4 linked regions of the Homo sapiens genome follow. The protein of the gene in region 1 interacts with the protein of each later gene in a biochemical or structural test. Each region holds a gene or a part of one and is shown in the gene's direction. Other genes may lie near its edges. The genes, in order: SMC1A, ESR1, ATM and POLI.

The links.
Region 2: the proteins of SMC1A (region 1) and ESR1 form a complex in vitro, tested with the Homo sapiens proteins (one large-scale study listed by BioGRID).
Region 3: the proteins of SMC1A (region 1) and ATM form a complex in vitro, tested with the Homo sapiens proteins (2 studies listed by BioGRID and IntAct, with this or other methods).
Region 4: the proteins of SMC1A (region 1) and POLI form a complex in vitro, tested with the Homo sapiens proteins (one large-scale study listed by BioGRID).

The regions. Positions count from the first base shown.
Region 1 is NC_000023.11:53,405,655-53,409,154, reverse strand, and holds part of SMC1A (structural maintenance of chromosomes protein 1A), read left to right. Parts: coding exon 1-93; intron 94-3,198; coding exon 3,199-3,384; intron 3,385-3,389; exon of another isoform or gene 3,390-3,482; coding exon 3,483-3,500. UniProt on the Homo sapiens protein: Involved in chromosome cohesion during cell cycle and in DNA repair. Central component of cohesin complex. The cohesin complex is required for the cohesion of sister chromatids after DNA replication.
Region 2 is NC_000006.12:151,805,896-151,814,181, forward strand, and holds the start of ESR1 (estrogen receptor), read left to right. Parts: upstream 1-1,786; 5' UTR 1,787-2,017; coding exon 2,018-2,469; intron 2,470-3,211; exon of another isoform or gene 3,212-3,376; intron 3,377-8,286.
Region 3 is NC_000011.10:108,245,586-108,250,709, forward strand, and holds part of ATM (serine-protein kinase ATM), read left to right. Parts: intron 1-1,378; coding exon 1,379-1,542; intron 1,543-3,347; coding exon 3,348-3,517; intron 3,518-5,115; coding exon 5,116-5,124.
Region 4 is NC_000018.10:54,293,969-54,301,363, forward strand, and holds the end of POLI (DNA polymerase iota isoform a (long)), read left to right. Parts: coding exon 1-499; 3' UTR 500-4,266; downstream 4,267-7,395. UniProt on the Homo sapiens protein: Error-prone DNA polymerase specifically involved in DNA repair. Plays an important role in translesion synthesis, where the normal high-fidelity DNA polymerases cannot proceed and DNA synthesis stalls. Favors Hoogsteen base-pairing in the active site.

The DNA.
Region 1 (3,500 bases):
GGGGATGCCCGCATCGACCGCCAGGAGAGCAGCCGCCAGCAGCGAAAGGCAGAGATAATGGAAAGCATCAAGCGCCTTTACCCTGGCTCTGTGGTAAGAGCAGAGAGGGAACTCATTTCCTGAGCACTTACACTCACTGTCACACGATTTTCCCAGCAGCCCTGTAAGGACAGGGTTGCCAATCCCATTTTTATTGTTGGGGGAAATGAGGCTCGGAGAGGTTTAAAAAAGCACCGCTTCTAAGAGGAAGAACTGCAGTTCAAACCCAACTTGTTCTCCTGAGCTCATGTTCTTTTTTTTTTTTTTTTTTTTTTATTTTTCAACCTGTCATACTAGGCAATCATGTTCTTTTCATCATACCAATTGCGTCTTTCTGAAGGTTTTGTCTTGCTATGTCTATGCCTCTGGGAGGGGAATTGGAAAACCAGGAAAGATTTTGGAAGCAGGTGGGGCCATGGGGCTGGAATTACTCTCCCAGGAAGTAGCTCTGTGCAGTCTTATAAAGGGGCTCCCTTGGCATGTATTAACTGGTCCAGTAGCTTTTAGGGACACCCTGAGCTTTATCAGATCTCTTGATCTTTTGGCCTCTTTCACCAAATCCTGAGTTCCCAGGTTCCCTGAATATTATCCCATACCTGGGTTCAACTTAGTTTGGTTCCACTAATATTTCCCTATCACTTCTCTAGACACTGCTGGGGAGATAAGTATGGTTAGAGTCAGTCCCTGCCCCCTTAATCTGATAGTTCTTAGGGAACCAGGCTTGGTTTTGGAGGCTGCAGGAAGGGAACTGGTAGAAGAGATTGATTGATTGATTGATTGATTTTGAGATGGAGTCTCGCTCTGTCGCCCAGGCTGGAGTGCAGTGGCACAACCTCGGCTCACTGCAATCTCTGCCTCCTAGGCTCAAGTGATTCTCCTGCCTCAGCCTCCCAAGTAGCTGAGATTACAGGTGCTCGCCGCCATGCCCAACTAATTTTTTTGTATTTTTAGTAGAGACGGGGTTTCACCATGTTGGCCAGGCTGGTTTTAAACTCCTGACCTCAAGTGATCTGCCCGCCTCGGCCTCCCAAAGTGGTAGGGTTACAGGCGTGAGTCACCACGCCCAGCCAGATTTATTTTGCTAAGTGCTTGTGAGAATTTGAAATAATATATATAAGATACTTGGCATAGTGCCTGGGTGGTGGTGGTCTGTAAAATGGTAGATGTGAGGTTTAGAAAGATGATTCTGGATTCAGACACGACTGCCTGAAGTCATTGCTTGGGAACCAGAATAGGCTTTTCCTTGATAGCATGGGGGCTGTGTTCTTCTGTGAGATAGGAAAAAACCAAAGTGTTTTTTCTACTCTCACAACCAGCACAACACTTCACTTCTGACACCAGAAGTGTGGGGGTTTTTCCTCACACACCAAGCAATTCTCCAGCAGACACCAGCTGGGTGACCTATAATTCACTTCAGCTCTGACACTATTTATCTGGAGATAGCATCAGATCCTGTGGGTTAGGGGCTCAGTCCAAGACTTCAGGTGCCAATTGCAAGTCTCAGGTTGTGACTTGTGGTTCTGACTGACCTGCTATAAATTACAGTTCCCGAGAATCCCTCCCTGGGTTCGATTAATTTACTAGTGCAGCTCACAGAACTCAGGAAAATGTTTTACTTATGTTTACCCATTTATTATGAAGGATATTACAAAGGATACAGAGAACAGCCAGATGGATGCATAAGGCAAGGTATGGGAGAAGAGATGTGAAGCTTCCATGCCCAATCTGGGCAAGCCACCCTCCAGGTACCCCCACACAGGGGCTTCATTATGTAGTCATGATTGATCAGATCATCAGCCATCGGTGATCAGTTCAACCTTCAGCCCCTCTCCCCTCCTGAAGGTTGTAGGGGTGGAGCTAAGAGTCCCAAATCTAATCCTGCCTTGGTCTTTCTGGTAACCAGCCCCTATCCAGAAGCTATCTATGGGCCTCCAGCCATAATCATCTCATTAACATACAAAAGACACTGCTCATTCCTGAGATTCTAAGGGTTTTAGGAGTTGTGTGTCAGGAACTCACGGGTAGAAGACTAAATATATATTTCATAAAACCACAGTCCACTTTGATCTTCAAACACAGATCCCTTACATCAGAACAATCATGTAATAAATAGAAAGATGCTGGGAGCGGTAGCTCACGCCTGTAATCCTCGCACTTTGGGAGGCCGAGGCGGGCAGATCATCGGAGGTCAGGGGTTTGAGATCAGCCTGGCCAACATGGTGAAACCCCGTCTCTACTAAAAATACAAAAATTAGCCGGGCATGGTGGCGGGCACCTGTAATCCCAGCTACTCGGGAGGCTAAGGCAGGAGAATCACTTGAACCTGGGAGGTGGAGGTTGCAGTGAGCCAAGATTGCGCCACTGCACTTCAGCGTGGGCAACAGAGTGAGACTCCGTCTCCAAAAAAGAGTAGAAAGATACTGGCACATTACTAGAATCCCACTGAGTCATTAATTAATAATTAGTCTAGTCCATGATCATGTCATGTAAAAATGTCTCCTAGGGTGAGGCCATTCAGGTTTGCAGGCTTCTATTCAATCTTGTTAGGTTCCAAAACCAGGAGTGTTCTCGGCAAACATAGCTTCATACTTTCAGGCATCTGGGATAATTGTGCTAAGAGACAATATCATCTCTTGCTCTGAACCTCTTTTGAGGTGTTAATGTAATACTGAGTTTCCCTCATTACATAACTCATTTATTCATTTCTTTACCTCCCTTCTCTTACCCAAACTTTTCCACCTTTCAAAGGGACGTTAGGATTGGCCACTGTGCTGATCTGGAGTGCACACAGCAAGCTAGTCTGCAATTGCCTCCTCCTCAGTCCATACAGTCTCATTCAGATAGGGTAGGGTTGCATGGGTACAGAACTAGTGGGCTGTCTTTTTTGTTTGTTTTGAGACAGGGTCTCATTATGTTGCCCAGGCTGGTCTTGAACTCCTGGGCTTAAGCTGTCCTCCCATTGCAACCTCCCAAGTAGCTAGGATTACAAACACACACTACCATGCTTGGTATTGGGTTATCTTAACCACTAGGCAATACAGTTGCATTCACTTCCTGATATAGATTCTAGTCTGTCCCCCTTTCCATACTGGGAATTAGGATTCCTGAGCCAGCTTCCAAAAGCTTCATACTTCAGTTTTCCCTTCCTACTTTACTCAGTACGGCCGCCTCATTGACCTATGCCAGCCCACACAAAAGAAGTATCAGATTGCTGTAACCAAGGTTTTGGGCAAGAACATGGATGCCATTATTGTGGACTCGGAGAAGACAGGCCGGGACTGTATTCAGTATATCAAGGAGCAGCGTGGGGAGCCTGAGACCTTCTTGCCTCTTGACTACCTGGAGGTGAGGCTTGTTGGGGATTGGGTCAGGCCAGTGTTCAAGGGCCCCTCCTCTAGTACTCCCTGTTTGTGTTCTGCCACTGACTGAGCTTCTCCCCACAGGTGAAGCCTACAGATGAG
Region 2 (8,286 bases), on another chromosome or scaffold:
TATCCTAGCAGGGAGATGAGGATTGCTGTTCTCCATGGGGGTATGTGTGTGTCTCCTTTTTCTTTCAGGACTTGTAGGATTCTTTGTGCCATTTGCATATAATTTGGCAGGTTCACATTTTTTAAGAGCCCTATGAAGTGCTTTTTGCATGTGTTTTAAAAAGGCATTTGAAAATTGAAAGTGTGATTTATGGAAATTAAATCATCTGTAAAAAATTGCTTTGGAAAGTAATGATTGCTGGCCATAAAGGGAAATATCTGCGATGCACCTAATGTGTTTTTAACCCTTTATTTGCTGACAATCTATAGTCATTAATGCTAAACTCGATTTTGGCTTCAGCTACATTTGCATATTGTCCAACAATGGTCTATTTTTGTAAGAATTAGATAAAATGTATACTTGATATAAAATAGTCAAAAATGTAACTCTTAGTAACAGTAAGCTTGGCATTTAGATAGACCATGAACACTTCGTCAGATACTCTGTTGGGTGTTTGGGATAGCAATTAAAACAAAGTATTGATAGTTGTATCAGAGTCTATTAGGCTGCAGCAAAGGAAGTTTATTCAAAAGTATAAACTATCCAAGATTATAGACGCATGATATACTTCACCTATTTTTTGTCTCCTTAATATGTATATATATATATATATATATATATATACACATATATGTGTGTGTGTATGTGCGTGTGCATGTTTAACTTTTAATTCAGTTAAAAACTTTTTTCTATTTGTTTTTCATCTGGATATTTGATTCTGCATATCCTAGCCCAAGTGAACCGAGAAGATCGAGTTGTAGGACTAAAGGATAGACATGCAGAAATGCATTTTAAAAATCTGTTAGCTGGACCAGACCGACAATGTAACATAATTGCCAAAGCTTTGGTTCGTGACCTGAGGTTATGTTTGGTATGAAAAGGTCACATTTTATATTCAGTTTTCTGAAGTTTTGGTTGCATAACCAACCTGTGGAAGGCATGAACACCCATGTGCGCCCTAACCAAAGGTTTTTCTGAATCATCCTTCACATGAGAATTCCTAATGGGACCAAGTACAGTACTGTGGTCCAACATAAACACACAAGTCAGGCTGAGAGAATCTCAGAAGGTTGTGGAAGGGTCTATCTACTTTGGGAGCATTTTGCAGAGGAAGAAACTGAGGTCCTGGCAGGTTGCATTCTCCTGATGGCAAAATGCAGCTCTTCCTATATGTATACCCTGAATCTCCGCCCCCTTCCCCTCAGATGCCCCCTGTCAGTTCCCCCAGCTGCTAAATATAGCTGTCTGTGGCTGGCTGCGTATGCAACCGCACACCCCATTCTATCTGCCCTATCTCGGTTACAGTGTAGTCCTCCCCAGGGTCATCCTATGTACACACTACGTATTTCTAGCCAACGAGGAGGGGGAATCAAACAGAAAGAGAGACAAACAGAGATATATCGGAGTCTGGCACGGGGCACATAAGGCAGCACATTAGAGAAAGCCGGCCCCTGGATCCGTCTTTCGCGTTTATTTTAAGCCCAGTCTTCCCTGGGCCACCTTTAGCAGATCCTCGTGCGCCCCCGCCCCCTGGCCGTGAAACTCAGCCTCTATCCAGCAGCGACGACAAGTAAAGTAAAGTTCAGGGAAGCTGCTCTTTGGGATCGCTCCAAATCGAGTTGTGCCTGGAGTGATGTTTAAGCCAATGTCAGGGCAAGGCAACAGTCCCTGGCCGTCCTCCAGCACCTTTGTAATGCATATGAGCTCGGGAGACCAGTACTTAAAGTTGGAGGCCCGGGAGCCCAGGAGCTGGCGGAGGGCGTTCGTCCTGGGACTGCACTTGCTCCCGTCGGGTCGCCCGGCTTCACCGGACCCGCAGGCTCCCGGGGCAGGGCCGGGGCCAGAGCTCGCGTGTCGGCGGGACATGCGCTGCGTCGCCTCTAACCTCGGGCTGTGCTCTTTTTCCAGGTGGCCCGCCGGTTTCTGAGCCTTCTGCCCTGCGGGGACACGGTCTGCACCCTGCCCGCGGCCACGGACCATGACCATGACCCTCCACACCAAAGCATCTGGGATGGCCCTACTGCATCAGATCCAAGGGAACGAGCTGGAGCCCCTGAACCGTCCGCAGCTCAAGATCCCCCTGGAGCGGCCCCTGGGCGAGGTGTACCTGGACAGCAGCAAGCCCGCCGTGTACAACTACCCCGAGGGCGCCGCCTACGAGTTCAACGCCGCGGCCGCCGCCAACGCGCAGGTCTACGGTCAGACCGGCCTCCCCTACGGCCCCGGGTCTGAGGCTGCGGCGTTCGGCTCCAACGGCCTGGGGGGTTTCCCCCCACTCAACAGCGTGTCTCCGAGCCCGCTGATGCTACTGCACCCGCCGCCGCAGCTGTCGCCTTTCCTGCAGCCCCACGGCCAGCAGGTGCCCTACTACCTGGAGAACGAGCCCAGCGGCTACACGGTGCGCGAGGCCGGCCCGCCGGCATTCTACAGGTACCCGCGCCCGCGCCGCCCGTCGGGGTGGCCGCCGCGCCCGGCAGGAGGGAGGGAGGGAGGGAGGGAGAAGGGAGAGCCTAGGGAGCTGCGGGAGCCGCGGGACGCGCGACCCGAGGGTGCGCGCAGGGAGCCCGGGGCGCGCGGCCCAGCCCGGGGGTTCTGCGTGCAGCCCGCGCTGCGTTCAGAGTCAAGTTCTCTCGCCGGGCAGCTGAAAAAAACGTACTCTCCACCCACTTACCGTCCGTGCGAGAGGCAGACCCGAAAGCCCGGGCTTCCTAACAAAACACACGTTGGAAAACCAGACAAAGCAGCAGTTATTTGTGGGGGAAAACACCTCCAGGCAAATAAACACGGGGCGCTTTGAGTCACTTGGGAAGGTCTCGCTCTTGGCATTTAAAGTTGGGGGTGTTTGGAGTTAGCAGAGCTCAGCAGAGTTTTATTTATCCTTTTAATGTTTTTGTTTAATGTGCTCCCCAAATTTCCTTTCATCTAGACTATTTGATTGGAAATATGTCAGCTATGATGATGACTTTCTGGGAAGCGATTCCTGTCACCCGCTTTCCCCTCCTCCCCACCCCACGTCCTGGGGCTTTAGAGAGCGATTGGGAGTTGAATGGGTCTGATTTCGGAGTTAGCTGGCTGAGTCCGCGCTGGAGCGGATTGCTGGCATGTGACTTCTGACAGCCGGAAATTTGTAGGTGTCCCGCGAGTTTAAAACAAGCCATATGGAAGCACAAGTGCTTAAAAATAATCTCCTGCCAGCCCAGTGACAAGCCTGTCCCACCCGGGGAGAATGCCCCGGAGTGGCGTGCGGGTCAGCCAGGGTCTGCGCCTCGCAGCCACTGTGGAAGGAGCGCGGCCGGTCCAGGACACAGGAGACCACTTTGTGACTTCAATGGCGAAGGTTGTGTGTCCTCATTTTAATTTTTTTCCCTACAAGAATTGTTCTTTCTCCCTCTCCTCTCCCTCCCATTTTCTCTTGCCCAGTTTCTCCTTTTGTTTTTTGTTTTTTGTTTTCCTGATGGGCCTGCAGAGGGATTAGGTGGGCGCTTCTGGTGAACACCTTCCTAGGTGGCCACAGGACAGGTGTACCCCGGACTGGGTTTGGAAGCTTCAGGGCGCCACATGGCTGGGTCCTGAATTAGGCATTTCCCAACTGTACACTGGTATCCGGACTGGTGTCCCTATATCTTTCTGCCTTGTAAGCCGTGGACCAGTTTTTGTTCAGTATTCTGTTTCCAGGGATATTTATAGCAGAAGGAAGGGGACTAAAGTGCAGTTTGGCCCCAGAGGATACTGAAGGGCAGATTCTGGGGGTATTCAGTGTGCATCTTCAGCCGCCTTGGAGAAATTTAGAGCATCCCACAGCCACGCAGATCCAAGCTGTCTTTACTCAAAAGACAAACAATGAACAAAACTTTTAAAGGTTGGCATATTTCAAATTAATTTTACTTGTTTTAATTTAGGGTTAAAACAGAGAAAAAGGATTTCTTCTGCCCACCTTTTTTTTTTTAAATGGAAGAACAAAGTACAGCGATTAAGTCTAATTCCACACAACATTTAAAACTGCTTGATGTGAAGGAAGGCACTGGTATGATGTGAATTCCATAACCTTATGATGGACTCCAGAAACCATTTTCTTCCCTATTTAATTTTCAGTTCTTTTATTGCAAATTAATGCTGCTGAATTTCAATGGGCACTAATGAGACTGCTCCTTGGTAGATTATTTACTGCCTTGCTAATAATTACAAAGTGAACCTGGTCAAATACAGAGGGGATCGCATCTTATTCAAAATTGTTCATCATCCCAGTGATAAGTGGTATCAGTGTAATATGCCCTATCTTACACTTTCTGCATTACATGATATTCAAACACTCTTAGAATAATAAAAAAAGAGACAAGGAACTTAAAAATTAAAAAAAAAACTTGCACAAATGGGACTCTGTGTGGAAATTCAGTTTTAGAATGATTTTTCCTGTGTTTTATTTCCCGGATTATCTTTCCTCTTTTGTTAGAATTCTGCCTGTTATTATCCAGCAAGGAAAAGAAGCATCTATGCAAGTTCTTCATATGGACAGATATTATTTAGTATTTTTCCCCTCTCAGTTTTTCTGCTTAAATGACTCTGGGTATAAAGGAAAGGATTGATTGGGCTCTTTTAGGAAACTTTAAGTTTCTTAAGTAGTTCTCAAAAGTTTTGGGGCTGAAAGCAGTGTTTTCAAACTGCTTGTCATGACCCAGAGGGTCATGAACTCAGTTTAGTGAGTCTAGAATATTTTTTAAAAGGACTAAAATGGAAAGGAATATAATAGAAAATATCAGAGTGCATGGTATTTCGTAAGGATAAGTTTTGTTTCCTGAAAATCTGTTTTAATTATATGTGCTTCTGTGTGCTGATTGTGATGTAAAATGTATTTCTTACTGTGGATTGAATTCAAAGAAAAAATTAGAAAGCTAATGGCCTAAAATATTATATGTTCAGTAGAAAACAAAAAATTCAGGCAAGTGGCTGGTTGTTTTTACCTATACAAATCAAAAGGCTATTTTGATTGTCTTCATTTTCCCCTTATAAATTAGGTTGGTGTCTTTAGTCATTTAGGCTAAGTTTTACTATCTGATTCTTAACTTTTCTATTGTAGAATGGTGCTGTCATGTGGACTGTCCTCCCGAGTGTCCCACTGGATGTTCAGAGAATTTATGTGAAGGTCACGTCATTTAGCATTGAGATGCTGTGGTTACCTTCTTCCATTTCTTCCATAATATGCAGCCACATCTATGTGTGAAGAAATGTAATAGATAAAATTTCTCTGGACGCATAATAATGTGAGAAAGATTGTCACATGTCCCAGCAAATTGTTATTAATATAAATTTGTTACTTGGCAAGCTGAGATTTTGCAAGATGTTACTCAAAATTTCACAATGAAGGAAACAGGGAGTCATCTTATCCTGGGTTCCTTTTTTAGATTTCAAACAACTTAGGAACTTTGAATAAAACTAAAGATGAAGCTTAACTATATCAACTATCCTTTTTAAAGTTCTAATTAGGAATTTAATGCTGCATGCTTATTTCAGTTTTATTACTCAGTATTCTTAAAAGTTAGACGTCTCTCACTTCTCCAAAAAACTTGGCAAATGTATAAATCTTTTGCATCAAAATCAATGCCCTGCTAATTTGTATCCTGGCCATCTGCATATTTTGGACAACTAATTTTTCCACTGGTGATCATTTGAAACTCTTTCTCAACTTTGAATAGAGACTGATTTCCAAAGTGAGATTTAAGTGACTAAGTTTCAAGTTTCCGATACATTTTTCCTTTTACTTAGATAACATTTCAGCCCCCTTCCTTTCTGATCTTACTTTTTTATTAATTTAAATTGTTACTGATTACGTGACACTTTGTGCTGGTCTAAGAATAGTCCAGAGTCACATATTCCCTGGTGAATGAGCATATTTTCGGATGAAAACGGAATCACATCTTCAATCCCCATTTCATTTTCACCTCCTCCATGTGGCTTGTACCTGTTTGGAAGAAAGCTCCTGAAGGATAATTGCCACTTATTCTAATCTTTCTCACACTCATTTAATTTGGATCCCTGGCTAAAGTTGTTATTTACTTTTGTGATTATACTTAGTCTATGACATTCATAATTTGGGAAAATTCTCAGGTTTGAGAATTTTGGCGGCTTGGGATTTCTTTTAGTTTCTTATAGTTTTAAGGATATGTAAGACAGGTGTAAGAAACTGCCAAGGGGAGGAACCATAGATATCAGGAAAAACTAGAAAAGATGCCAGACTTACCATTAATGAATGATGAGACAATAGTAACTTTGTTAAGTGAGATTGTATATGTGAAAGTGGTATAGAAACTAAACAAACATTAGGTGTTTTTATTATTTTACTCACATGTTAATATTTGTTTTGGTGCTTTCATAGGCTAAAAAGCTGGGAAATAACAGATTTAAGTGGTCAGGAATTTTGTTATAAATATAGAATGATGATTATATGAAATCTTTTCCTGTGAAAGTCAAATTTAAGTAAAATCTTTATCACCATCTGCAACATTTGTCTGCAGCCTGGCTTACCAGGTTATCATAAAGAACATTTATTTTACAGATACATTAAAGAAAGTCAAAACCCTGATTATGTGTAAACAATTTTACATAAGGAAATATATGAATTTTAATTATATTTTTCTAAAATCCGTACTCAGCATGAAATTAATACATCTTAACCCCTCCCTGTGACTTCATTATTATTTTTAATGTAACTTTAGAAGAACCCAGTAGAGAGAGCAGCGTGCTAAGTGTGTTTCTTTCTTTTCCAGACAACTTTGAATGGAGAGGAGCAAATTAGTCTTTTGGTTTAATTCTGTCTCAGTTTGCTTATCTAAAGAAAGGAAAACAGAGTGGCTACACTTGTTTAGAACCATATGCATACTCCAGAGAAAGATGCTCTATTAATCCAAAAAATACAGCCACTTGAAACCAGCCAAAGCGAAAGTGTAAGGGACTTCATGGAAAGGAGGCAGTTCACCAAAGTTATTGAGGGGTTTTATATTTTAAACTCCGCCAGTGAATTGACGTGTAATGTCACTTACAAAAAAAAAAAAAGTATGTCTGAGCTGTTCGCTACTTCGTCTCTAAAATATACTCATACTGATCTCTGAAATCCCAGAATTTAAGTGGGCTGGAGGTTACGGGAAGCACCTTTATAATATCCTTAATCTCATGAGGGAAGAAACCATAATTGCTGAATTCTCTGCCTTGGATAATATCAGGAGGGACTCTGAAGAAAGTTTTGCAGTAATCAACAATGTTTTAAATTATGTGTATATTTTTAGATCACCTCAAAAAATATAGGAAGCACAGAATGACAACTATTCTGGTCTCAACTGACACAATTTTATGTAGTTTAATAAAGTAATAATTTCAAGAAACGTGGGCAAATAAGAAAGAGTATGACTTTCTTACAACCCGCTTGTAAGTGATGTGGTGGTGGTAATGATCCATGATTTTGATGATGACGATGATGATGAAAATGAAGTTTTTGTCTCAGTTTGGGTAGGTGGTATTTCTGGATGCCTCCTATGGACCCTGGAGATGTTCATCCTATACAGAAATCCAATCCTTTAAATCTACTTGGCTCATTGTTTTAGAATTCTAATTCCATAGTCTGAAAATTTTAATAATGATATTACCAATAATATTAGAAACTTATTAAGTACCTATAATTGCTATACAAAAAATTTAAAAGAACCCAAAATTCCAAGCAAGACTGAAAATTTTTTGTCTCTCCTCTGAACTATTTAGAGGGACAAATTAGTTTGTTCTTATAATATCTACTTTAAATAAATGTGCCATCTTTAATAAGATAGTAGACTTCTTTGTTTGGTAATGTTCTATTTTTTGGAGATCCTATGAGTTACACTTGGGAAAATTATAAAAGTTCACTTAAAGTTAATAAAATCCATTAAGTAATGTTCAGAACTAGACATTTCCAAATGAGCCCTTGAAAAGCTCAGGTGGGTTCTTTTTGAGAGTTCCCCAAATGTTGTCAACCCCAGGAGGAATGGAAGACCTCTGCAGTTTTGTTATTCAGATTCTCATCTCCTTCTCAGAAGCCGTAGAACTGGCCGGGCCCTAAGGTCCACGCTCCTTGGTTCCAGTTCTGTCTTCCATCCTTCGGTCCCGGGCTCATTCTGCCTGTTCCTAAACGGTGGCAAGTTAGGGGCCCCAGCAGCCAACTTGTGCTTACCTGGCACTACTTCCTGGGCAGTTTTCTTGGCTCCTTGACTTGTTGGGCGGCTTGGG
Region 3 (5,124 bases), on another chromosome or scaffold:
TAATTCCTTCATATATGTCCTATACCAAGAGAGTATTGCCCAGAAGGTATAGTGCTTTTCTGTAGTTAGGAACTTTATTGGCTGGAACTGGAGTTTCCTCTTGCTCTGTCTATGATTGCCTTTGGGCTTATACTAGCCTTTGGACCAACTCATCATGGCTAGTATAGTGACTTTCTTAAAACAGCATACCACATTGAGTAATAGCAGCTATAATGGAGGAAATGTCTTGTAGCCACTTTTTTTTTTTTTTTTTTTTTGAGACAGAGTCTCACTCTGTCGCCCAGGCTGAAGTGCAGTGACGCAATGTTAGCTCACTGCAACCTCCGCCTCCTGGGTTCAAGCAATTCTCCTGCCTCAGCGTTCTGATTAGCTGGGATTACAGATGCCTGGCACCATGCCCAGCTAATTTTTGTATTTTAATAGGGATGGGGTCTCACCATGTTGGCCAAGCTGGCCTTGAGCTCCTGACCTCAAACCATCCACCCGCCTCAGCCTCCCAAAGTGCTGAGATTACAGGCATGAGCCACTGTGCCCGGCCGTGTAGCCACTTTTTATCAAAAGTAGCTGTGTATTTGTTTTATGGGCTCTTCTAATAAGTATATCTAGATAATATGTAGCCCATGAAACTACTATAAGTGAAAGAATAGTGACTTTTAATAGTTTTTCATCTTTTACTCACCTCTTATCTCCAGGATGAAGATCAGGCTTATTAGGAGGTGATATGATATGTTTAGGGATTTAGTTAACTGCATATTTAGGGTGAATTTAAAATTGGCAGGATGATGAGGATGCCAGAAAAGCTAATGTAGTTTCAGACTACTTTAATAGATTTTGTAGTACCTTGTTTGTGAGAAATAATAGACCTTTTGTTTCGCATACTAGTCAAGCCACAGTTGGATTACCATGTTCACCAGATTTTGTATAGTCAGCATTTTAAGTTGACTGGAATGTGTCTTGGGAAAGATGACTGAAATGGTGAGAAGTCTGAATAATATGTCATTTTTACACTAGTTGAAGGAACTCGTAATATTTTTCTCTTAGGCCAGAAAAAGGCATACGGAGAACTTGGTCCTCATATGAAAGAGGGAACATATTAATTGTATTTGCCTCAGGTGGGAGAATAAATTGGAGAAAGACAGATTTTAGGTCAGAATATGGAAGAAATTTATAAGAAACACAGTTATCTAAATGTAAAATGGACAGTTATGAAATAGAGTTTGTCAAGGATCTTGTCAGAAGAGGCATTAGTACTGAATGGAAGGTTGGACCAGGTGTCTTCTAACGCTGATGCAGCTTGACAGCTGAATAATTTTGTGGGAGCTAGCAGTGTAAACAGAGTACATACATAAAAATTACATTTTAATTTTTTGGATTACAGGTGCTTATGAATCAACAAAATGGAGAAGTATTTTATACAACTTATATGATCTGCTAGTGAATGAGATAAGTCATATAGGAAGTAGAGGAAAGTATTCTTCAGGATTTCGTAATATTGCCGTCAAAGAAAATTTGATTGAATTGATGGCAGATATCTGTCACCAGGTACAGTAAGTAGGTCATGTCACATTTAGAAATTTCCTGTTAATTTTTTTTTTAAACTGGGCATTTTGGGCTTTTAAAACCTGTGTTCTCACAAAAAGCCTATAAAATGACTCTGTACATGCAACTATTCCTTTCAAACTATCAGAAATATTTGGAATTACCCTTTTAACTTAAAAGTTAATGCTTTTGCAGATATTTGAAAACTAACAATGAACTTTTTCATTCTTAAATGATTGTCTCTAGGAAATAAGGTGACCCTAACCCTAATGATTCGATTCGACTCGACTGTATTCTACAAAGTGCTGGGATTACAGGCATGAGCCACCAAGCCCAGTCTGTTTCTTTTTTGCAATTAAGCTAGAGTTCACATAGCATAAAATTCACGATTTTGAGTTGTACATTTCAGTGGTTTTTAGTATTTTTACTATGTTGTACAACCATCATCACTAATTCTGGAAACTTTTTTTATTTTATTTTTATTTTTTTGAGATGGAGTCTTGCTCTGTCACCCAGGCTGGAGTGCAGTGGCACAATCTCCGCTCACTGCAACCTCCCTTTCCCGGGTTCAAGTGATTCTCCTGCATCAGCCTCCCGAGTAGCTGGGACTACAGGTGCCTGCCACCACGCCCAGCTAATTTTTGTTTTTTTAGTAGAGACTGGGTTTCACCATATTGGCCAGCCTAGTCTCAGACTCCTGACCTTGTGATCCTCCTGCATCGGCCTCCCATAGTGCTGGGATTACAGGCGTGAGCCACCGTGCCCAGCCCAGAACTTTTTTATCATCCCAAAAGAAACCTCATCCCTTCTTAGCATTCAGTCCCAATTCCCTGCATCTCCTAGATCCTGGCAACCAGCCACTAATCAATCTTGGTTTTTGTGGATTTTCCTGTTTGGGACAGTTCGTTTAAATGGAATCATACAATATGTGAGTCTTTTGTGTCTGGTTTCTTTCACTAAGCATAATGTTTTCAAAGTTCATGTTTTACCATGAATCAGTACTTCATTCATTTTTATTGCTGAATAATATTCAGTTGTATGGATATACTCCATTTTACTTACCCATCCATCACCTGATGGCCTAATGTTTCTTAAATAAAACTCTGTTCCCCAGAGATTTGGTTAACATCCTGAGTAGTAATTTCACTCTGTCAAATATTTTCTTAATATTTCTTAAAATTTCTTAAATTTAAAAACTTGAATCCCTTTGAAAGTAAAGGTTTTTGCTTTACTTTTAGATTTCTTAGTGCTTTTAGTAAATGTTCCCAGGAAATAAAACTAATGCATTACTTGGTAATACCTGCTTTCTAAAGTGCCATTACTGTCATGCAAAATGTTTGTTTCTTACTATGTTATCAGATTTATATGTTTCTGTAATGTATTACTCTTGCTTTATGAGTTCCCTGTATCTTCATTTCAGAAAGAATTTTTTTTCCCCCTAATGAAATATTAGAAGACAATAGCAATGAAAAAAGTGTATTTGGCCAGGCGTGGTGGCTCACACCTGTAATCCCAGCACTTTGGGAGGCCAAGGCGGGCAGATCACCTGAGGTTGGGAGTTCAAGACCAGTCTGACCAACATGGAGAAACTCTGTCCCTACTAAAAATACAAAGTTAGCTGGGCATGGTGGTGCAAGCCTGTAATCCCAGCTACTCGGGAGGCTGAGGCAGGAGAATCACTTGAACCTGGGAGGTAGAGGTTGTGGTGATACGAGATCGTGCTGTTCCACTCCAACCTGGGCAACAACAGCGAAACTCTGGCTCAAAAAAAAAAAAAAGAAAAAAGTGGATTTATTTTTATTTTACAGGTTTTTAATGAAGATACCAGATCCTTGGAGATTTCTCAATCTTACACTACTACACAAAGAGAATCTAGTGATTACAGTGTCCCTTGCAAAAGGAAGAAAATAGAACTAGGCTGGGAAGTAATAAAAGATCACCTTCAGAAGTCACAGAATGATTTTGATCTTGTGCCTTGGTAAAGTGTTACCATTTTCTCATTCAGTGTCATTTTAATCTCTTGTATGTTATTTTTCAGAAAACTTTCAGTGGAATCCTTTCATCTCAACCAGAACTAAGTCATTTGTCTACCCCCAAACCTATTACTAGCAAAGGGATATGTGATTGCCATGACAAATGAGATCAATCATTAATGGCTCATTTGCTTGGGCCAAGTGCAGGGCCACCTATTTTAATCATATTGTCATAGCAAGTTAAGAAGGAGGACTGGCTCTCTGATAGGCAATTAGAAGTGTGCACCTCATGGAATTCACTGAATTGTACGCTTCAACAATAGATTTTAGCATACGTAGCACCTTCTAATAGAATTAGGAAGAAGTTAAAGATAATCTTAAGAAATCACAGAATAATTTTGACCTTATGCCATGATAAAAAGTTATTTTCTCTTATTTTCTATCTTCTTTATTCTCATGTAACGTTCACATATATTTAAGTAATCAAATAAATTATGGATACTTTGGAATCCCAAAATATTAGATCTGGTAAGGATGTTTAGAATTTATCTAGTTCAGCCTGTTTGCTTTACTGAAAAGAAACTGAAACCCAGAGAGGTTAAGCAACTTCTGTAGGGACAGAGATTTATAGATTATAGTCAAACTCGTGATCAGTGCTCTTTTGATTACCATGTTGATGGAATGTTTAAGTGTAAGTGACTTCTGGGGAAAAGCATATTGATTTAGATACCTATTGCTTAAGCTCATTTTTATATAGTTAAGAGTAGCTATTTAAGATTCTTAATTTGTCCTTTTAGTCAAGAGTAATTTATTGAACACCTGTTATGGGCTAAGCGTTAGATATACAGAGATGAATAACATAAGACTCCTATTCTTAAGTATCACACATTCTAGAGAATACACAGCAAATGTTTATTGGATTAACTGAATTAATGTAAAGGAAAAACAGTTTTTTGGGTTTCTTTGTTTTCCTGTTTTAGAGGAATCGTTTGGTGACTAAAGAGCAAGGATGTACAAGATAACTCAGAAATAAAATATTGCTAAATATATATATATATATATATATATTTTCTGAGACGGAGGCTCACTCTGTCACCCAGGCTGGAGTGCAGTGGCACAATCTTGGCTCACTACAACCTCCACCTCCCAGGTTCAAGCAGTTATCCTGCCTCAGCGTCCTGAGTAGCTGGGATTCCAGGCATGTGCCACCATGCCCGGCTAATTTTTGTATTTTTAGTAGAGACTGGGTTTCACCATGTTGGCCAGGCTGGTCTCAAACTCCTAACCTCGTGATCTGCCTGCCTTGGCCTCCCAAAGTGCTGGGAAACCACCTGGCCCAAATATTGCTAATTTAATATCCTTTAAAATATTTGTTTAAGGGAAACTTAACAGCTTACCCAGCTAGCCAAACGTTGACAATTTTCCTGCCAATTTAGGAAGTAGGACATAGTAACTATTAACAGCCAGTTTATTTTTAGAGTACTATGGAAATGATGGTGATTCTCTAATTAGGATATTGTAAGAGTACCATGTCTATATATTTCCTTTTAGTTTGTTAATGTGATGGAATAGTTTTCAAATTATCCTTTTTTTTTTTTTTTAGGCTACAGAT
Region 4 (7,395 bases), on another chromosome or scaffold:
ACAAATGCAAGATATTCCCATAAATCCTAGAGATCATTTATCCAGTAGCAAACAGGTATCCTCTGTATCTCCTTGTGAACCGGGAACATCAGGCTTTAATAGCAGTAGTTCTTCTTACATGTCTAGCCAAAAGGATTATTCATATTATTTAGATAATAGATTAAAAGATGAACGAATAAGTCAAGGACCTAAAGAACCTCAAGGATTCCACTTTACAAATTCAAACCCTGCTGTGTCTGCTTTTCATTCATTTCCAAACTTGCAGAGTGAGCAACTTTTCTCCAGAAACCACACTACAGATAGCCATAAGCAAACAGTAGCAACAGACTCTCATGAAGGACTTACAGAAAATAGAGAGCCAGATTCTGTTGATGAGAAAATTACTTTCCCTTCTGACATTGATCCTCAAGTTTTCTATGAACTACCAGAAGCAGTACAAAAGGAACTGCTGGCAGAGTGGAAGAGAGCAGGATCAGATTTCCACATTGGACATAAATAAGCATATTCAGCAAAAAGGTCTGAAAAGCAAGGGAATACCATTATTTTCGGATTAGCGGTTTATTAAGCTCTTCTATATTAAACACTAATAGATATTCAATAACGGAGTAAACTGTTCCAGATAAAGCAAGAATAGTTGCAAGAAGTAAATTCTGGCACAAAGCGTAAAAATATAACAGAAGAAATAATGTAAAATACTATCTTTTATGTCTAAAGCCATTTTATATTACTTTTCAATAAAAAGAATATCATGGTCAACATAGAATATTTTTCATGAATTGGTGGGGAGATGTATATGTTTATATATAAAAAATAGCCAAATCGTTGCAATGATATGGTAAAGGACACATTTTTTTTTTTTTTTTCCTGTGAAATGTGGAATATCTCAAATTCAGCCTCTTAGGCTGAATAGCAAATCCTACTGCCAACTAACCTATTAAAAATATAGATAGTTTTGACTAAAGTACTACATTACATTTAGTATGTTGACTTTTAAAATACCAAAGCAATTTATATTCAATTAATGCTTCTTCATACACCAAGAATCTACCACAATACACAGCACACAAAGGCCGTTCAATAAACATTGAATGAATGAATGGTTTGGCTAGGGCCAGGGTGGGGAGTTAAAGTGAGAGGAGGGTATATGTTATAGAGAACAGTGGTAGAAGGAACTCTCCGTGCAAGTAAATTAAGGGAAAGATGGACACCAGAAAGGCAAGGTGATGGGCCTATAAGCATACTGGATAATGGAAGAAGTCCATTTCTTTCTAGCTAGTTTGAAGGGCCTAAAAGCACTGAGATGTTTTTGTATCTTCCCTACATTTGGAGATGATATTAGGTTGTCATAACAACCACAAATATAGACCATTACTAAATTGGTGGATGTCCTCTTTCTCCCATTGTTATTGCCTTCCTCTTTTGCCTGCTAAACTAAAAATTGGATATAAGATTGAGAATGTATTATATAATTTGCAAGACATAGAGGATGTTTATAGAATATACTAAAGTATCCCTCAGCACCAATATGGGAGTATCCTGGTCTCAAGTTTATAATTTTTGCACATATAATCTAAAGAAGAGACTTTAAAAATAAAGTACACAAATATGAACCAAAGAGTAGCTTAAAAATACTTTCTTCTAGGTCTGAAATTTTCTTTTCTTTCTTTTTTTGTTTTGGAGACAGAGTCTCACTCTGTCGCCCAGGGTGGAGTACAGTGGCGCAATCCCAGCTCACTACAACCTCCGCCTCCCAGGTTCAAGCAATTCTCCTGCCTCAGCCTCCTGAGTAGCTGGGATTACACGCATGCCCTACCACACCCAGCAAATTTTTGTATTTTTAGTAGAGATGACATTTCACCATATTGGCCAGGCTGGTCTCGAACTCCTGGTCTCAGGTGATCCTCCACCTTGGCCTCCCAAAGTGCTGGGATTACAGGTGTGAGCCATTGCTCCTGGCCCCAGCTCTGAAATTTTAACTTAGTTTTGGATTCCTTGGAATTTGAAAATATGCTAACACGAAGGATTGTAAATAGGTAGTTTGAGGTTATCAGGAACAGTAACTTGAAGCAAGAACATCAGAAATTGTTCACCATGCAAATATTTAGTACTCTGAATCAAGGAACATAGTATTTTTTACATGAGTATTCCAGTAAGGTAATTAAACTTATGAAAAGGGTATATAACTTTTTGTAAATCATTAAAACATTTTATAGTCCTTGTAATGATTTCAGGACCTTGGACAGCTAGAAGGGGCTTAAGAAAAAATGGCTAAGAAAACAAAGTAAATGGTTTTGGCCAGCTTAAAAAGAGAAAGCAAAATAGTTAAAAATACATTTCATAGATTGAGAATGTACGGGCTATGTCACAGTTACGCTACTTATTTTGTGGTTTTAAGTTAGTCTCAACATCTTTGGGCCTCAGAATCAACTTTTTTATGGGATCTTTTTTCTCTGTTTTTAAGATTATCTCTTTTTTCTTTGGTGCTTTGCAGGTTTACTGTATTATTTGGAAGTGCGAATTTATTTTTATTCTTAGTATATACTGGCTTCTTCCTGTATCTTTTAATTCATGTTCTGTAAAATTCTCAACCACTAGCTCTTCAAATATTTCTTCTCTATTCTAGGACTGTATACAAATGATAGACTTTCTTACTGTATCCTTCATGTCTCTTAATTTCTCATATTTTTCATCCTCTTGTTTCTCTTTACTGCATTTTGGGTAATTTCATCAGCTCTATCTTTCTGTTTACTAGTTCATTTTTCAGTAGCATCTCACCTGCTATTTAAAACAATGATGGTTTTAATTTCAATAAATATATTTTTCATTTGATTCTTTTTAACTTCCCGTTTACTCATTACAGTCCCTTGTAAGTCTGTTTCTAATTTTTAAAAGTCAAATATATGATATTTTTGATAATTTCAATATTTTAAGTCTTTATAAGTCTACATTTAAGGTTATTATTGCATATCATTGTGACTTATTTCCTTGAGTATGTGTTAATCTGCGAGAAGACAGAGGGCCTAAATTGTGTATGTTTTCCTTCAGTATGATTTGAGTTCGTTGCTTCTCTGGGTGAGGTGGTACAAACTCCTTGGCATACTCTATTCACCTTTGTGGATCCTGATTGAATGCCTTGTCTTAAGTGTAAGCTCCCTGACCCTTACTACTAGCCGAAGGTTTTGTCTCTGCAGGTCAATTCCAAACTAACAGGCAGATGCTGTTAGCTATCTGCCTCCAGGGATAAACCCCATCTTTCAAGCTTGCTTCTTGCTTGATGCTTTCTGCTGCTTTCTTGCTTTTGTTTCAGCTCGAGTTTGTTGTTGTTTTTTTTTTTTCCTGTTTCTGTCTTGAATGTAGAGGGTATTTTTATTTTTATTTTTTCTGTTTCTCTCTTGAGTGTATAGTGTAGAGGGGGTTTCTGTCTTGAGTGTAGGCCTGGAGATTTCCCTTATATGGTACAAACCAGCAATGAATTAAGAGGTCTCTTTTCTCCAAGATCTAGTGTTTTGTACTAGGAGAACTCTAAAAAGTATCTATTCCACTGTAGTGCCAAAGTACAAATTTATTTGGATTTATTTTTTGCCATCTTATTTTTTAATATATTTCTTTTTCTATGTTGTGCTTCTTTCCCACCTTTATCTCTCCTCCTATCTTTTGGGATCAGTTGGGTTTTCTATTTAATCATATATTTTCCCTTTACTGATTTGGAATGTGAATGTTACAAGTCCTTTTGATTATCCTTAAACATCTAAAAATGCTACCCTCTTTCCAAACAACACAAAGGTATTGAAATAACATTAATTCTAATTAAATTCCACAAGTTCTTTATTAAATCTCCAAATTGGATATTATTAGTATTTTATATAGTCAATGTTTATTTTTTTGATGGGACATGGTGGGGGCTTACCTTTTTTCTTGTGTGTCAGATGTTCCTTCTAGGTAGAATTCTTTATACCTTCTGAAATTATGTCCTTAGAGCTGTAGATTTAGAACTGACATCTCTTGAGCTGTTCTAAGATAATATCTTTTACTTTGGAGATACGCAGTTTTTATTATATGTCTAGCTATAGATTTATCATGGATTTAGGTTCATTATGAATCTGCAGATTTGTGTCTTCCATCAAATCTGGATTGTTTTCAATATTAAAAAAACTTCTATTTTAAAATCTGTATATAGAAAGGTACATAAACATAAATGAACATGTTAATGAGTAATTGTAACAACTATGTAACTGTCCAAGTCAAGAAATAAAACATATCAAGTAATCAAGAAGTCCAGAGTTTTCTTTGGGGTTTCATTACGTAGGCATGATTTATTAAAACCTTTACTGTGTGCTTGAACTTAATCTCCAGTTTCCCTCCTCTGTCTGGACATCAGGCTGGCTCAAAGTCTCAACACCCTAATCATGGTTGTTTTTTTGAAGTGAGCTACCTCCATCCTAAATCATCTTTTTAGCATTAGCTGTCTAGGGCCCACTGTGGGTCACATCATTAGCATACAGTGTCAGGGCTTACCATGAATAATGAAGGCACTTCTGTTGTTTAGGAAATTCCATGGGTTTTAGGAGCTTGGTGTCCAGGAACCCTGAACGAAGACCAGACCAATTATACTACAGAATCTTTTTTTTTTTTTTTTTTTTGAGATGGGGTCTCGCTCTGTCGCCCAGGTTGGAGTGCAAAGGTGTGATCTTGACTCACTGCAACCTCCATCTCCTGGGTTCAAGTGATTCTCCTGCCTCAGCCTCGAGTAGCTGGGATTACAGGCACCTACCACCACACCCAGCTAATTTTTGTATTTTTAATAGAGATGGCATTTCACCATGTTGGTCAGGCTGATCTTGAACTCCTGACCTCGTGATCTGCCCGCCTCAGCCTCCCAAAGTGCTGAGATACAGGTGTGAGTCACCACCCCTGGCCCTACTACAGAATCTTTTAAAATAAGTTTTGAGATGTATTATGGCCCCAAAGTGATCTACTTTAGTAAATATAGGTATGACTTGACTGACAATGTGGTTATGCTCAGATAAGCCCATTGTAAATTGAAAATATCATGAGTGAAATACATTTAATACATCTATGAAACATCATAGCTTAGCCAGGCCTACCTCAGACATACTCAGAGCAACTCACGTTGGCCTACAGTTGGGCAAAGTAGTGTAACACAAAGCCTGTTGACAGAGCCTGGGCCGGGCGTGGTGGCTCATGCTTGTAATCCTAGCACTTTGGGAGGCCGAGGCTGGTGGATTGCCTAAGCTCAGGAGTTCGAGACCAACCTGGGCAACATGGTGAAACCCTGTCTCTACCAAAATACAAAAAGTTGACTGGGCGTGGTGGTGCACGCCTGTAGTCCCACCTACTGGGGAGGCTGAGACAGGAGACTCGCTTGAACCTGGGAGGTGGAGGTTGCAGTGAACCAAGATCCCACCATTGCACTCCAGCCTGAGTGACAGAGCAAGACTCCATCTCAAAACAAAACAAAAAAAGCCTGTTTTATAATAAAATGTTGAATATCTCATGTAAGTATCATACTGCATATCAGTCACCGAATGGAATTAACAGCAGATACTGCTGGAGAAAAAATTAGTGCACTAGAAGTCAGAGCAATAAATTATTCAGAAAGAAACAGAGAAAAAATAATAAACACAGCATCTGTGAGCTATGAGACAACTTCAGGCAGGCTAATACATGTCTTATTCAAGTCCCCAAAGAAGAGAAGAGGGTGGGAGATGTAAAAAATATGTGAAGAAACAATGGAGAAATTTTTCCAAATTTGAGGTTAACTATAAACCCACAGGTCCAAAGAGCTTGGCAAATCCCAGGTACAATAAACGTGAAGAAAACTATACCAAGGAGTAACCTAATCAGAGCTCTTAAAACCAGTGATAAACACCATCCCTTGAAAAAGACATACTATTGCAGAAAAACAAGCAAAGCCAACAATTTTGAAAATATTGGAAGCCAGAAGACAGTGGTCTGACATCCTCAAATAAAGTAAAGAAGTGGGGGAAAAGTTGGTTAACTTAGATATCTTAAAAAAAAAAGGAAAATAAGAACATAAGGCATACATATGAAAGAACTCATGCCCGGTAGACCTACATTACCCATAAAATTAGAGGAAGTCCAACAGGCAGGAAGAGCACACCAGATGGAAATACAGATCTACACACAGAAATGAGGAGCACCAGAAATATGAGTATATTTAAAAGCTTTTTTTGTTTCTTATTTCTAAGTGTCTTTTTAAAAGTTGGCTATATAAAACAAAAATAAAAATTATTAAAAATATATTGTAGGATTACAATATATGTGGGAGTAAAATGTAACAGTACAAAGGCCAGGAGGGGAAGTATATAATTTTAAGTATAGAAATGGTAGTATATTATTGTAAGGCCCTTAAACTAAACATGAAGTGGTGGGTTACATCTTGAAGACAGACTGTGATAAGTTAGAGATGTATAATATAAACCCTAAAATAACCACTGAAATAGCAAAATAAGTTTTAATTAATAAGCCAGTAAAGAAGATAAGAAATAGAATAATAAAAAGCCACAAAATTCAATCCCCAAAAAAAGCTTAAAAGGAGAGAAAAGAGGAATAGGACACATGGGGAAAATAGAAAACAAATAGTAGGTTGGTACATTTAAGTCATATCAAAATCATGTTAAATATAAATGATCTAAAAACCTCAATTAAAGGGCAGAGATTATCAGATTGCATGAAAAAGTAGGACCCAACTGTCTGCTGTGTATATAAAATTTTTTAAAAAATAAAGACAAATATGTTAAAAGTAAAAATTGGATAAAAGACACGAGTCTAACATTAATCAAAAGAAAGATGTAATAGCTTTCAACAGGAAAACTGCTTGTTAGAGCAAAGGAATTTAATCAGAAAATCATTTCAAAATGATAAACGAGTCAGTTCATCAGGAGAATGCAATAGTCCTAAATGTTAATGCATCCTCAAAATACATAAAGCAAAAGCTGATAAAACTGCAAGGGGAAAAATATCCACAATTGTAGTTAAGAGATTTGAGGCTGGGTGTGGTGGCTCACACCTGTAATCCCAACACTTTGGGAGGCCAGGGTGGGCAGATCACAAGGTCAGGAGTTCGAGACCAGCCTGGCCAATATACTGAAACCCCGTCTCTACTAAAAATACCAAAAAGTAGCTGGGCGTGGTGGCGGGCACCTGTAATCTTAGCTACTCGGGAGGCTGACGCAGGAGAATCACTTGAACCTGGGAGATGGAGGTTGCAGTGAGCTGAGATTGTGCCATTGCACTCCAGCCCAGGCAACAGTGTGAAACTCCCATCACACACACACACACACAAAGATTTGAATACTTTTTTCTCAATAATTGCTAAAATGAACATACAAAAAAAAATCAGTAAGGATACAG